Regions from separate parts of the Homo sapiens genome. Here region 1 is linked to region 2. Evidence: fine-mapped expression QTL. A gene starts in region 2. The other region holds a variant in brackets. All regions are shown on one strand. Distances are from middle to middle. Region 1 overlaps NRTN (neurturin). Region 2 holds the start of DUS3L (dihydrouridine synthase 3 like).

What was found.
Region 1: its variant is fine-mapped to the expression of DUS3L in whole blood (INTERVAL, PIP above 0.99).

Annotation. Positions count from the first base shown.
Region 1 is chr19:5,815,743-5,818,643 of GRCh38, forward strand. All of the region lies in intron 1 of NRTN (neurturin), which reads left to right. Among named protein-coding and RNA genes, the nearest start is that of NRTN, 12 kb to the left of the region's middle. The variant AAAAAAC/A (reference allele first, on the strand shown) is at 1,432.
Region 2 is chr19:5,789,395-5,792,295 of GRCh38, forward strand. DUS3L (dihydrouridine synthase 3 like) reads right to left here and starts at 1,769. Exons shown (of 13, transcript NM_020175.3): 1 at 1,650-1,769; 2 at 653-941; 3 at 1-325. The coding sequence starts at 1,747. RefSeq lists an enhancer at 1,492-1,951.

The DNA.
Region 1 (2,901 bases), 26 kb after region 2:
TTTTTTTTTTTTTTCTTTTTGAAACAGAGACTCACTCTATTGCCCAGGCTGGAGTGCAATGGTGCGATCTCGACTCACTGCAACCTCCTTCTCCCGGGTTCAAGCAATTCTTCTGCCTCAGCCTCCTGAGTAGTTGGGATTACAGGTGCCTGTCACCGTGCCTGGCTAATTTTTGTATTTTTAGTAGAGATGGGGTTTTGCCATGTTGGCCAGGCTGGTCTCGAACTCCTGACTTCAAGTGATCCACCCGCCTTGGCCTCTCGAAGTGCTGGGATTACAGGCGTGAGCCACTGTGCCTGGCCGATGGTGTCTTTTAAAAATTTATTATTTTCTATTTTTGTAGAGATGGGGTCTTACTATGTTATCCAGGCTGGTCTCGAACTTCCAGGCTCAGGCGAACTCCCCGCCTCAGCCTCCCAAAGTGCTGGGATTATAGGCGTGAGCCACTGAGCCTGGCCGAGTTTCACCAGTATTTCTGCTAACGTCCTTTCTCTGTCCCAGGGTCCATCCAGGATCCCAGATGACATTTAGCCATCCCCTTTCCTTTGGCCCCTCCAATCTGAGACTCCTCCTCCATCTGTCTTTGTCCTTCATGACCTTGACTCTTTTTGTCTTTTCTCTTCTCATCTTCTTTTCTTTTCTTTTTTCATTTTTGAGACGGAGTCTTGCTCTGTCGTCCAGGCTGGAATGCAGTGGTGCAGTCTCGGCTCGCTGCAACCTCCGCCTCCCAGGTTCAAGCGATTCTCCTGCTTCAGCCTCCTGAGTAGCTGGGATGACAGGCATCTGCCACCATGACTGGCTAATTTTTTTTGTATTTTTAGTAGAGACGGGGTTTCACCATGTTGGTCAGACTGGTCTCAAACTCCTGACCTCAAATGATCTGCCTGCCTTGGCCTCCCAAAGTGCTGGGATTACAGACGTGAGCCACCGTGCCCCGTCTTGTCTTCTTTTCTTTTCTGAGACAGGGTCTCCCTATATTGCCCAGGTTGGTCTCAAACTCCTGGCCTCAAGCAATCCTCCTGCCTTGGCCTCCCAAAGTGCTGGGATCAAAGGCATGAGCCACCTTGCCCAGCCAGTGAGTGTTTTGAATGAAGGTGGAAGCGTCCAAGTGTGTGAGTGTGGTCATGTTTGAGTGTGACTGTGAAAACGCCCTAGCATGTGAGCACGACGTATTCAAATGTGAGTGTGAGAACACACTAGTGGATTCATGCGGTGGTGTTCTGGTGTGTGGATGTGATTGTGTTAGAATATGTGAGCCTGGAAACATCTGAGTATGCATGGGATCATGTTTGGGTGTAAGTATGAAAATACTGGCTGGGTGCAGTGGATCACACCTGGAATCCCAGTGCTTTGGGAGGCTGAGGCGGGAGGATTGCTTGAGGCCAAGAGTTTGAGACCGCCTGAGCAACACAGTGAAACCCAGTTTCTACC[AAAAAAC/A]AAAAACAAAAACAAAAACAAAAATATAGCGAGGCATGGTGGCACACACCTGTGGTCCCAGCTACTTGGGAGGCTGAGGCAGGAGGATCACTTGAGCCCAGGACTCAGAGGTTGCAGTGAGCCGAGGTTGCGCCACTGCACTCCAGCCTGGGCAACAGAGCAAGATTCTATCAAAGAAAGAGAGAGAGAGGGAAGGAAGGAGGGAGGAAAGGAGTGAGGGAGGGAGGGAAAGAGAGAGGGAGAGAGAGAAAGAGAGAAAGGAAGGAAGGAAGGGAAAGAGAGAAAGAGAGGAAGGAAGGAAGGGAAAGAGAGAGAGAAAGGAAGGAAGGGAGGGAGGGAGAGAGAGAGGAAGAAAAAGAAAGAGAAAGGAAATAGGAAGGAAGGAAGGGAGGGAGGGAGGGAGGGAAAGAGAGGAAGGAAGGGAGGGAGAGAGAGAGAAAGAAAAAGAAGAAGGCAGGCAGGCAGGCAGGCAGGCGTGTGAGTGTCATCATGGTCAAATGTGTGATTGTGTTTCAATGCGTGTGAAAAAGTCCAAGTGTGTGTGAGTGTGAGGACAACCCAGGATGTGTGTGTAACCCTGTTTGAGTGTGGAAATGTGAAAACAGTGAATGTGGGAGTGTTTTGTTTTGTTTCGTTTCCAGACGGAGTCTTGCTCTGTCACCAAGGCTGGAGTGCAGTGGTGTGATCTCAGCTCACTGCAACCTCTGCCTCCCGGGTTCAAGCGATTCTCCTGCCTCAGCCTCCCGAGTAGCTGGGATTACAGGCGCACACTGCCACACCCGGCTAATTTTTTTTCTTTTTTGAGATGGAGTCTCGCTCTGTCGCTCAGGCTGGAGTGCAGTGGGGAGATCTCAGCTCACTGCAACCTCCACCTCCCAGGTTCAAGTGAGTCTCCTGCCTCAGCTTCCCGAGTAGCTGAGATTACAGGCGCCCACCACCACACCCGGCTAATTTTTGTATTTTTAGTAGAGACAGGGTTTCACCATGTTGGCCAGGTTGGTCTCGAACTCCTGACCTCAGGTGATCCAACCGCCTCAGCCTCCCAAAGTGCTGGGATTACAGGTGTGAGCCACTGCACCCAGCCAAATGTGGGAGCGTTTGAGCACGCAAGTGTGCTCGAGTGAGAATGCTTGAGCATGTGAGTGTGATCGTGTGTGGGCAGTGTGTGAGTGTGTGAGTGTGTGTATACGAGTATGAAAGAACCTGAGTGTGAGGATATGAGATGGCTGGGTGTGAATGAGTGTGAGTGGGCACACAAGTGTAAGCCTGACAGTGTGCTGTGTGAGATGGGGCATCTCGCTATGTTGCCCAGGCTGGTCTTGAACTCCTGGGCTCTGGCAGCTGTGGGTGCTGGCAGCGTGTTCACCTGTGTACCCCTGTGTGTGTGGCCAGGATGAGGGGTCTCAGGGCACAGATGATAACCTGAGCTAGATTGCAAATGACAGTGGGCACTCCTGTACCTAC
Region 2 (2,901 bases):
CCTGGCTGAACCGGCGCAGGGCCTGCTCAGCTCGCTCGAAGCGGACCTCGCGCTTCCGCAGCTGCTGCTGCAGGGCTTTGTCCAGGCCGTTGCGGATGGACGGGGGCTGGGTCCCGCGGGCCGCCAACTCCTCCTGCACCAGGTTCTGTCCCTCGGGCCTCAGGTGGGCCCCAGCGAAGCGGCAGGTCACGCCGTAGGGGCACCGGCCGAAGGTCTCGAAGAGCACGCAGCGGGGGCCCAGGTCGGCCGGCTTGGTCTCCAGGTAGCGCCCCACGTCGTGCAGAAAGCGGCAGCGATCACCGAAGAAACACTTAGCAGCCGACTCCTGCGAGGAAACAGGGAAGCAGTGAGGGAGGACAGGGAGACCCCGGGGCAGCCCAGCAGCCAGGGTTCAAACTCTAGATCACCCCTCCTGGCTCTTGTGTCCCTGAGCAAGTCAGGCACCTCACCGTGCCTCTGCATCTCCATTTATACAATGAGAACAATGACAAGCCCTACAATGTATCCCGAGGAGAATGAAGACGGAATGGCATCAGAGCAAGCTCACTGCTCGTTGCTGAAGGCCCAGGAGCTTTCTAACAATTACCCGCTGCCAGGAAACACACCCTGCTCCTGCCTGCCCCGGCAGGAATGCTCACGTGGCCGCACTTGCCTGGATTAGGGAGGGACACAGCCTGTTCTTGTCGTAGTTCGTGGGCTTCACATGGGGCCGGCCCTTGTTTTGTCCCCGGGCCCTCTTCTGAGTCTGTAGCTGCTCCCCGGGCTCTGCTGCCTCCTCCGTCTGCCCGTCCGCCGTCTGTCCATCCTCCAGTCGGATCCGCTTAGCCTCAGGCTCAGCCAGCTCATTGCCAGCAGGGTCTCCTACCTCGGTTTCCCGGCAAGTCTTCTCCTGCCCTTTGGCTTCCAGGAATTGGTGAAACTGCTCCTTGGTGGTGAGGTATCTGCCGACAGAAAGGGAAAGGAAAACCCTCCGAACATAGTCAATAAACACTGGGGAAAGGAGGCTAGAAACACTTGCACGTCCTTAAATCCTTCTGCTGATGGGGAGCTCACTACTTAAGAACCAGCCAGCTCCCAGCCTGGGAGCCCCTCACGGCCTCAAAAAAGACCTATTTTGTCCCTGGGTCCTCACTGTCCAAAGTGTTGCGCGAAACTATTATCAGGTTCAGTCAAGAACGTCCCTGCGCACGTTAGGCTGCGAAAAACTACAATTCCCAGCATGCCTTGAAGCGGAGTCTAAGCCACCACATTTCCCAGCACGCCTTTCGGCCCTTCAAACACCGCAGGCCCCAGCACGCCCCGCGGCACTCGCTTCAACCCCAAGACCCGCCAGTAACGGCCGCTGGCAGAGCACATGCGCCGTACGTCCATATGCAGGGACTACAATCCCCAGTATGCAGCGCGGGCCTGGCCTCAAATCCCACCTGCCCTAGCATGCACGTGGTGTCCTTCGCGCATGTGACAGGCCCCAACGTGCACGATCTCAGGTACCTCCGCTGACCACCCTGCAGGCGGAAGAACGGCCCGGAATGAAGAGCCGGTGGCTTCTCGCCCTCAGCCGCTGCCTAATCTCCCGGCATGCACAGCTCGGACCGCGCTATGGGTGCCGGAAAAGGCCCTTCAGCTTCCCTCCTGCCCCGGCGACTCACTGACGCTTAATGGGCGCCACTCCTCGTTCCAAAGCTCCGGCTCCCGAGTCGCCACCACCACCATTCTCTAGAGGAGCCTCCGCCGTTCCCTCCGCCATCGGCGCCCCTCACATCCGCTCTGGAGTGTGGCGGGAAGACCTTCCGGGTCACGCGTGTCTTCCCTGATTGTGCTGGGGAAGTGCGCATGCTCATGTCGTTCCAATGACGCCATTGCTCGCTCGTGACGCCACGGGGGCGGTGCCTGCACATGGGTGGAGCCTCAGGTCCTATATAAACTAGAGCCTGGCCAATTGCGAACTGGACTGCAATCAGCTTCTGGACTGAGGAAATTTAACTGTTAGGGTGTTTTGGAGGTTTTTGTCTTTGTTGTTCTGTTGAAACGGTTTCGTTCTGTCGCCCAGGCTGGAGTGCAGCGGTACGATCACGACTCACCGCAGCCTCGTCCTGGGCTCAAGCTATCCTCCCACCTCAGCCTCCCAAGTAGCTGCGTCTACAGACATGCACCAATAGGCCTGGATAATTTTTAAATTTTTTGTAGAGACGAGGTCTTGCCAGGTTGCCCAGGCTGATCTTGAACTCTTGGGCTCAAGCGATTCTCCCACTTTGGCCTCCCAAGCATTGGGATTACAGGCGTGAGCCATGGTTCCCGGCCCCTGCTAGGGTTTTTAAAAATGTAAATTAGGGGTCGGGAGCGGTGGCTCACGCCTGTAATCCCAGCACTTTGGGAAGCCGAAGCGGGCGGATCACTTGAGGTCAGCAGTTTGAGACCAGCCTGGCCAACATGGTGAAACCCCGTCTCCACTAAAAATATAAAAAATTAGCTGGGCGTTGTGGCACATACCTGTAATCCCAGCTACTTGGGAGGCTGAGGCAGGAGAATCGCTTGAACCCGGGAGGTGGAGGTTGCAGTGAGCTGAGATCACGCCATTGCACTCCAGCCTGAGGGACAGAGCGAGACTGTCTCTAAATAAATAAATAAATAAGGCCGGGTGTGGTGGCTCACGCCTGTAATCCCAGCACTTTGGGAGGCCGAGGTGGGCACGTCAGGAGTTCGAGACCAGCCTGGCCAACATGGCGAAACCCCGTCTCTACTAAAAATACAAAAATTAGCCAGGCATGGTGATGGGCGCCTGTAATCCCAGCTACTCAGGAGGCTGACGCAGGAGAATCGCTTGAACCTGGGAGGCGGAGGTTACGGTGAGCCGAGATCGGCCGTTTCACTCCAGCCTGGGCGACAGAGCAAGACTCCATC